Regions from separate parts of the Homo sapiens genome. Here all the other regions are reported to be linked to region 1. The links are microRNA targets in miRTarBase. Many come from high-throughput screens and were not tested one by one. Region 1 holds a microRNA gene; each other region holds the end of a gene's coding sequence.

What was found. Region 1 holds the annotated microRNA hsa-miR-512-3p (AAGUGCUGUCAUAGCUGAGGUC, at 1,768-1,789, opposite strand). A microRNA usually pairs through its seed, bases 2 to 8, with sites in the 3' UTR of a target mRNA and lowers its output. Matches are read on the target gene's strand: a 7mer-m8 pairs with bases 2 to 8, a 7mer-A1 pairs with bases 2 to 7 and ends in A, and an 8mer does both.
Region 2: miRTarBase lists WWC1 as a target of hsa-miR-512-3p. Seed matches in the 3' UTR shown: 7mer-m8 at 1,949-1,955.
Region 3: the mRNA of CEP72 is a reported target of hsa-miR-512-3p. The part of its 3' UTR that is shown has no 7-base or 8-base seed match.

What each region holds. Positions count from the first base shown.
Region 1 is chr19:53,665,395-53,668,517 of GRCh38, reverse strand. It overlaps MIR512-1 (microRNA 512-1), which reads right to left and starts at 1,839; the gene lies at 1,756-1,839. The region is part of intron 2 of LOC107985342 (a long non-coding RNA gene); the gene reads right to left. RefSeq lists enhancers at 1-250, 1,139-2,027, 2,028-2,915, 2,916-3,123.
Region 2 is chr5:168,468,636-168,471,758 of GRCh38, forward strand. It overlaps WWC1 (WW and C2 domain containing 1), which reads left to right. Exons shown (of 23, transcript NM_015238.3): 23 at 316-3,123. The coding sequence ends at 382. Among named protein-coding and RNA genes, the nearest start is that of RARS1, 16 kb to the right of the region's middle.
Region 3 is chr5:652,774-655,896 of GRCh38, reverse strand. It overlaps CEP72 (centrosomal protein 72), which reads right to left. Exons shown (of 12, transcript NM_018140.4): 12 at 2,344-2,909. The coding sequence ends at 2,744. Among named protein-coding and RNA genes, the nearest start is that of TPPP, 39 kb to the left of the region's middle.

The DNA.
Region 1 (3,123 bases):
AGGACTTCGAAACCAGCCTGGGAAACATACTTAGCCCCCTTATCTACAAAAAATGCAAAAATTAACTGGGTATGGTGGTACGTACTTATAGTCCCAGCTACTCAGGAGGCGGAGGTGGCTCACTTGAATCTGGAAGGCAGAGGTTGCAGAGAGCCAAGATCTGGCCACTGCCCTCTGGGCACCGGTGTAGTCTCAGCTACTCGGGAGACTGATGCAGAAGAACTGCCTAAACCCAGGAGGTGGAGGTTGCTGTGAGTTCCCACAACTGCACTCCAGGCTGGGCAATAGAGTGAGATCCTGTCTCAAAAAATGAAAAACATTTTTGCTCTACAAGATTACATTTAATTGGCAACTACCTAGCTTTGAACCAGCAAGGGGAAAAGTAACAGAACGGCATGTCTGTCTCACTAACTTCTTGTTTTTTTGAGACAGGTTCTTGCTCTGTCCCCCAGACTGCAGAGCGGCAACACAGCCGTCGGCTCACTGCAGCCTCAACGTCCCTGGCCATACACAACTGCAGCATTTTGGCTAAACCAGCATGGCTTACAGAGAACAAGTAGTTCTTTCTCTCTCTTTTTTAAGACAAGCGTCTTGCTCTGTTGCCCAGACTGGAGTTCGGTGGCGCGATCTCGGCTCACTGCAACCTCCGTCTGCCGGGTTCAAGCAGTTCTCCTGCCTCAGCCTACCGAGTAGCTGGGACTGCAAGCCTGTGCCATCATGCCCAGCTAATTTTTTTGTATTTTTAGTAGAGATGGGGTTTCACCATGCTGGCCAGGCTGGTCTCGAACTCCTGGCCTTGTGATCCGCCCTCCTCGGCCTCCCAAAGTGCTAGGATAATAGGCGTGCGCCACTGCGTCCTGCCACAATAGTTCTTTCAATGGTAAGACTAGTTGAAAACCTGAGTTAGATGTGTATCTCTAATCTTAGTGATATTTAAATGTAAATAAAAATGTTATGTCTGGAACACACTTGGGCTGCTTGGGATATATTCAGATAAATACTATTATACATAATTTATAAATAAATACTATTTATTTACTAATAGGGTATCAGAAAGGTACAATCCCTATGTCTCCAGGTTGACATAGAAATTTTCTACTGGTCCGAAAGTTGCATCTGTACGACTGGCCAGTTGCTTCTGGTTCAACAAGGACCTAACCTGCCAATCACACAGGACAGCTGGGGGCTGACATTCCAAATTGTAATCTTTACTAGGCACAGAGGCTTAGCAGGCCTCTGGTTTAATAACACACGAAAGTAACTGCTTGAAGTAGCAAGGCACTCACTCACAAGGCACCTATAGAGTTGGTACTTATGGTCTGGAAATAGCCACATTGTAAGCTGACCACCAGTTATAATTACCAAATATTGGCAGGGCACAGGGGATCATGCGTGTAATCCCAGCACTTTGGGAGGACGAAGCAGGAGGATTGAGCCCAGGCCTCAGCTTGCTTCTTTCGCTGTGTTGTGACTTGCCTCGAAATTCTTTCCAGCAAGAGATCCAAGAACCCGCTTTTGGGGTCTGGATTGGTTGCCTCTTCTCTGGCAATGGTGTGACCCAGGCTATCCCTGAATCCAAGCATTATAGCTGCTACGGAACCCAGCCTCACAACCCAGAGACCGTGGTCATTTCCTTAAAGCTGGGCTGAAGTCCAGTTTATGGCGCAGAACAAGCACCACGGTTTAGCTTTTACCTGCAGTGGCTCCTGGAGCCCCCCGCCCCCCCTCCCCCCCATGGTGTTTCTTCGGTGCTCGCCTCAGTCATTGGACCTCAGCTATGACAGCACTTTCATTCTGGCACCAGAAAGTGCCCTCAAGGCTGAGTGCCACAGACTGAGAAGTACCCTCCCTGTATTGTCCAGTACCTGGAAACTGCAGGCACATCCTCTATGCAGAAGATAAGAGATTTAAAACTGACTTCTGAATGTTGCTCAATAGCGAAAGGTAGATTGAGCACTCTCTCCAGTTCTCAGGAACAATGCAGAGCCTTGTAATGCAAATCCTAGGCCTGCCCTGGGGCTCATGCCTGTAATCCCAGCACTTTGGGGGTCCCCAGCCTGAATAACACCTTTTACATTACTTTGTTTTCTTTTTCTTTTTCTTTCTTTTTTTTTCTTAGTCTTGCTCTGTTGCCCAGGCTGGAGTGCCATGGAGCGATCATCAGCTCACTGCAGCCTCCGCCTCCTGGGTTCAAGCAATTCTCCTGCCTCAGCCTCCTGAGAAGCTGGGATTACAGGCGCCTGCCACCACACCTGGCTAATTTTTGTATTTTTAGTAGAGACAGGGTTTCACCATATTGGCCAGGCTGGTCTCGAACTCCTGACCTCGTGATCCGCCCACCTCAGCCTCCCAAAGTGCTGGGATTACAGACGTGAGCCACCGCACACGTCCAGCACCTTTTAAATTACGTGGACAGGCCCGGTGTGGTGGCTCACCTGTAATCCTAGCAGTTTGGGAAGCCAAGGCAGAAGGATTGCTTGAGCACAGGACTTCAAAACCAGCCTGGGAAACATACTGAGGCCCCCTTCTCTACAAAAGATTTAAAACTCAGCTGGGTGTGTTTGTGCACACCTATAGTCCCAGCTACTCTGGAGACGAAGGTGGATCACTTGAGTCTGGAAGGCAGAGGTTGCAGAGAGCCAAGATCTGGCCACTGCACTCCACCCTGGGCAACAGAGTGAGACCCTGTCTCTTTAAAAAATAAAGAAAAGGAAAAAGCTGCCTTTGTGGACACCTAAATAAAAAATAAAATGAACCTAAAACCTACTGGGTGCAGTGGCTCAGAGGCCGGGGTGAGAGGATGTTTGTGCCCAGGTGTTGATGACCAGCCTAGACAATGGTGGGAGACCCCAACCCTACAAAAAAAAAAAAAAATTAGCTAAGCATGGTCCTGTATGCCTGCCATCCCAACTACACGGGACGCTGGGGTGAGGGAGGTTGAGGCTACTGTGAGTCACGATCTCACCACTGCACTCCAGCCTGGGAGACAAGCCCATCTGGGCAACACAGTGAGACTCAATCACTAATTGAACAAAATCCAAAAATTTTAAAAAATCAATAATGCGGTCCAGGAATGGTGGCTCACACCTGTAAACCCAGCACTTTGGGAGGCTGAAGAGGGCG
Region 2 (3,123 bases), not on the chromosome of region 1:
AAACTGAGAAGCCTCTGACTGGATTTGAACTAAGAGTCATCGTTCATGCTAATGGTCTTTTAAAGCAGTGGTTCTCAACCAGGGGTGATTTCTCCCCTTCCCCCTGGAACATTTGGCAATGAGCTTACGTTTTGGGTTGTCATAACTGGAGGTCAAGGATACAGCCAGCATCTAGAGGGTAAGAGGCCAAGGACGTTGCTAAACATTCTGCAGCGAATGTATAGGACAGCTCCCACGACAAAGAATTATCCTGCCCAGAATCTCTGTAGAGCGAGGTTGAAAACCCCTGCTCTAAAGGGATGGCCTCTCTTATAGGGAGAAGATGGCATTTTTCACCCGGCCTCGGATGAATATCCCAGCTCTCTCTGCAGATGACGTCTAATCGCCAGAAAAGTATTTCCTTTGTTCCACTGACCAGGCTGTGAACATTGACTGTGGCTAAAGTTATTTATGTGGTGTTATATGAAGGTACTGAGTCACAAGTCCTCTAGTGCTCTTGTTGGTTTGAAGATGAACCGACTTTTTAGTTTGGGTCCTACTGTTGTTATTAAAAACAGAACAAAAACAAAACACACACACACACAAAAACAGAAACAAAAAAAACCAGCATTAAAATAATAAGATTGTATAGTTTGTATATTTAGGAGTGTATTTTTGGGAAAGAAAATTTAAATGAACTAAAGCAGTATTGAGTTGCTGCTCTTCTTAAAATCGTTTAGATTTTTTTTGGTTTGTACAGCTCCACCTTTTAGAGGTCTTACTGCAATAAGAAGTAATGCCTGGGGGACGGTAATCCTAATAGGACGTCCCGCACTTGTCACAGTACAGCTAATTTTTCCTAGTTAACATATTTTGTACAATATTAAAAAAATGCACAGAAACCATTGGGGGGGATTCAGAGGTGCATCCACGGATCTTCTTGAGCTGTGACGTGTTTTTATGTGGCTGCCCAACGTGGAGCGGGCAGTGTGATAGGCTGGGTGGGCTAAGCAGCCTAGTCTATGTGGGTGACAGGCCACGCTGGTCTCAGATGCCCAGTGAAGCCACTAACATGAGTGAGGGGAGGGCTGTGGGGAACTCCATTCAGTTTTATCTCCATCAATAAAGTGGCCTTTCAAAAAGAATCTTCCTCTTGCTCTCTTTTTCTTTCCTACCCCTCACTTCATCTGTTTCCCTGATTTTTGACTCTCCCCTTTCCAGTCATTTCTTTCCCACCCATCCGCAGTCCTGGAAACATTTATTTTTTCTTTTGCCCACTGTTTTCATTTGCTCATTAAATTAAAATGACTGCTCGGCTCATTGGGAATCCACATCCCCAAGTTAGACTGGGGATATGCTCTCTGTACTGTCTCCTTCTATGGAATTCCACCCCACCCAGAGAGAGATGACTTCACAGTTTGTTCATATGAGCATCATCCCATGTCGTCCCCAACCCAGGGGCTGGTAGGTGCTACAGCTTGTGCTTCATGCTGCTCCTGTGGCCCCTATTCCTACCCAGCTCAGAGCTTTGCAGGGTCTACTGCAGACAATCAGAAGTCAGTTTCTAACAAATAGCAACAGCCACAAATCTCTTCCTCCTTCCTCTCTGACATTACCCTGTGCAACTTTTCTCAAAGTCTGTTGCACCACTCAGCAAAGCAAGTTGCACCAGCTATATCAGAATCACCTGGGGCAGCCTATTAAAAATGCAGACTGTTGAGACCATCCTGGCTAACACGGTGAAACCCTGTCTCTACTAAAAATACAAAAAATTAGCCGGCCGTGGTGGCGGGCAGCTACTCGGGAGGCTGAGGCAGGAGAATGACCTGAACCTGGGAGGCAGAGCTTGCAGTGAGCTGAGATTGTGCCACTGCACTCCAGCCTGGGTGACAGAGCAAGACTCCGTCTCAAAAAAAAAAAAAAAAGAAAAATGCAGACTGGCTGGCGCGGTGGCTCATGCTTGTAATCCCAGCACTTTGGGAGGCTGAGGCGGGCAGATCAACTGAGATCGGGGGTTCGAGACCAGCCTGATCAACATGGAGAAACCTGGTCTCTACTAAAAATACATAATTAGCTGGGCGTAGTGGCGCATACCTGTAATCCCAGCTACTTGGGTGGCCAAGGCTTGAACCCAGGAGGCGGAGGTTGCGGTGAGCCGAGATGGCGCCATTGACTCCAGCCTGGGCAACAAGAGCGTAACTCCATCTCAAAAAAATAATAATAATAAAAATAAAATGCAGACTGTCAGGTCCTCTCTAGACCCACTGAACTATCCCGCCCACCCTGGGACGGTCCCCAGTGCCAGTGTTTTACCCATGTTCCCTCTGTAAGTCTTATGCACACCGCAATTTGAGAGCCCCACTGGTATAAAGTGAGTGAAACCCAGGCAGAGACAGGCAAAATGGTGAGGCCCGCATCCTATTGGTGAGTCACACAGGGAACGCTGAAATTCATGGCCTTCTCCAGGCTACTGGGAACCCATGGGCGGTGATGGAGGGAGTGGTGCCACCTTCACTTGCTGCTGAGGCTCTTCCCCCTCTCCCCAGCATACTCCTTACCTGGCTGTCTCTCCTCATGTATAAGGAACCTATAGTGGTGTAGAATCTACTCTTCTTCCCCCTGTGGCTTCCAGGCCCCCCTGTATAGCTGCTATCCAGCCCGATTTCTCACCACTGGCCCAGGGCTTCCTCCTGCCCCGTGGCTTCACGTCTCTGAACACATCAATCTCTGATGTTCTCTCTCCTTCCATTGAATTCCACCAGACACATTCAGGGTTTACTTCGTAATGTCTTCATATGAGTATCAATCAACACCTTCCCCAACTCAATTGTACTAGGTTGTAGAGCACAAGGATGGTCTCGTGCTGCTCTGTGGCACCTGTGCCTACACTCCTCTGAGCTTTGAGGAGGCTGCTCTCTTTGCTGACCCCATGATCTTTTCTGCCCTTCTGTTAAGGGCATTGGCCACAGCAACGGGGCAAATGCCCCAAGCTGGCTGTAAGTGACCCATCCCTTTGGCTCCCATGATTAGACCAAGGAGAGGCATGGGGTCCAGCTGAGCCATTCAGAACCATTCCTTAGCATTTTCCACTCAAAGGTTAGAGATGAGATTTTCTCTTCCCAAGGCTACCTCTGGCCATGGTTC
Region 3 (3,123 bases), not on the chromosome of region 1:
AAAAGACACCATTGAAGTAAAAAGACAAGAAAAGCTATTTGCAAATGTAATTCACAAAGCACTACTACCCAGAATCATAAATAACACCTGCAAATAAATGAGACAGACCATCCAATAGAAAAGTAGGGAAAATACTTGAATAGGTACTTTACAAACAGGAAATCCCAATGAGCCGCAGACACATGAGAAGGTGCTGAACAAGGAGAAGCCAATGAAACCAGAAAGAGGTCTACCCCACACGTTCCACCACCCCGCGCCCTCCGCCACCCCGCGCCCTCCACCACCCCACTCCCTCCACTACCCCACACCCACCGGAGTGAAGGTGCTAACACTTCAGGCAATGGGTGCTGAAAACATGGACCGGCAGACGTGGTCATACACAACTAGCAGTCGGGCCTGCGGGTACCACCACTTTGGAACAGTTGGGAATTTCTAGTAAACCTGTTAAAAACATGGTTAAGCAGTTAATGGAAACGTGAACATAATGGGATATAAAACTAATGAAAAAAATCAAATGGAGTTTTTTTGTTTTTTTTTTGAGACGGAGTCTTGCTCTGTCGTCTAGGCTGGAGTGCAGTGCTGCAATCTTGGCTCACTGCAACCTCCGCCTCCCAGGTTCAAACGATTCTCCTGCCTCAGCCCCCCAAGAAGCTGGGACTACAGGTGCCCACCACCATGCCCAGCTAATTTTCATTTTTAGCAGAGATGGAGTTTCGCCATGTTGGCCAGGCTGGTCTCAAACTCCTGGCCTCAAGTGATCCTCCTGCCTCAGCCTCCCAAAGTGCTGGGATTACGGTGTGAGCCACCCCGCCTAGCCTCAAATGGAATTTTAGAACAAAAATATACCTAATTTCTGATATAAAAAATTCACTATACAAGCTTAACATCAAATTAGGCAAGTGGAAGAAAAGATTAGTAAGCCTCGCAACAGGACAATAAAACCACCTAAAGGAAAGGATGAGAGAACAAGGATGAAAAAGCATCACGTTTAGTGACCTGAGAGACAGTATCACAGTCTAACAGAAAGCTAACTAGAGTCCCAGATGGGGACAGGGAGGAAGAAGTGAGAGACGGGGTCAGACAAGAAATATGAGTAGTGGCTGCAACTTTGCCAAATCTGGTGAAAAATATGAACTCACAGGTCCAAGAAGCTCAATGAAACCCAAACGAGGTAAGCATCTATAAGCTTAAAGTGGATTAATATTAACATCTTCTAATACTCTTACATACATAAATTACGTGATGACAAATTAACCCCATCCCAACCCTACAGAAAATAAATTTGGTATGACACATTTTCCTGTTAGGACCACAACTGGACAGAGAGGTGACACAAGAGGGCAGCCTGAAGCCTAGCAAGTCCTCTTCGGGGAAGAGACAGCAGAGTCCCACCTCTGATTTCCCCAGGGATACAATCCACACGCACACACACACACACACAGAAGCACACACACACACAGCTAGCAGACACACACAGCTAGCACACAAGCACACACATAGCAAGTGCACATACACAACGCGTGCACACACAGCACACACACAGGGTGCGTGCGCGCACACACAGCGCACACACAAGCGTACACACAGCTAGCACACAGCAACTGCACACACACACAGCAAGCGCACAAGCACACACACACAGCAAGCATGCACACACAGCTAGCACACACACAGCAAGCGCACACACAGCTAGCATGCACACACAGCTAGTACACAGAGCAAGTGCACGCGCACAGAGCACACACAGCAAGCGCACACAGCTAGCACACACAGCACACACACACAGCTAGCACACACACAGCTAGCACACACACACTAGGCGCACACACAGCACACACACACAGCTAGCACACACACACAGCAAGCGCACACTAGCGCACACACAGCACACACACACAGCAAGGGCACACACACACACAGCAAGGGCACACACACACACAGAGCTAGCACAGAGCATTTTCTTCTTAGGCCTGCTCATTCTTCCCAAATCAGTTGAACGTCATTTAAAAAATGACCTTGTCTTACCAATCACAGCAAGTATGACATAAGATATGAAGTTTCCAAACTAAAAATCTAGTTTTGTGTCCTATTATGACATAATTTTCAGAACTACACTGCAAACAAGAGAGCGAGCCAGGGCTTGGGTAGATGTTTCCGCTGTGATATGTTAATATCATAAGACAATATTTTTAAGGTTTTTTCCCCCACATCTATAAGTGTCACTTGTGTTAAGTCTTTGAACTTAATTATTCCCACTCACCTATCATGGTGCACAGCTTGTTCTATAAAAAACTCAATGACAAACTCAGTTATAATTTGTATACAGCCACTGAAAAAGTTAACTTTTCAGAACAATGTATTTGTTTATTAAATAAAGATTGCTTGTTACACAGAAAATTATTTTCTTTAATTATCATACATAGCTCTCTTTCACATCAGGCAGTAGAACACTGCATTTACTTCATCTCAGGATACTGGATACAAGATTAATAGTCAGTTTGTCTCAAAATATGTCAATGTGTTCTGTCTGAAAACATGCAGAGGGCTTGGAGTAATCATATCATTTTACGAGGTGCTTTAGAAAACCAAGCTACAGGTCCTGAATACATTCCAAAAATCCTAAATAATTACCAACAGAAGAGAGAACTCTTGCCAGCCAGTACACTCAATAAAGAAGTACAAAGGTGCAGACAATGTAACTTTACCAGGAAGCTTAAGGGGTGGCCCAGCTTCTCGGCAGGAGTCAGCAGGCCTGGCAGCCTCCATGGCTGGCGCTGCTGTGTGGAAACAGGGCCATGGTCTTCTTGAGCTCCTGGTAGCTCCAGTGCATCTGCTCCACCTCGGCTCTGTGCTGCGCCCGCACCTGGCTCAGCTCCTGCAGCAGGTGTTCATTGGTGCTGACCAGGGAGCTGCAGAACAACAGGGAAGCGGCTGCTTGGCACTTCCGTCCTCTCCAGCGGTGTGGCCCTCACCTGCTGGGCCTGCCCACCTCCCTGCATGGGCACGAAGGTGCCCTGGCCCTGCACACAGACCTATCTCTGTGGCCCCATCACCTTCTGTGTCCCACTGGCTACCGCCCACCTGCCTCCTCCTTCCCAACCACTGTCCTGACCCCTGGGAGCA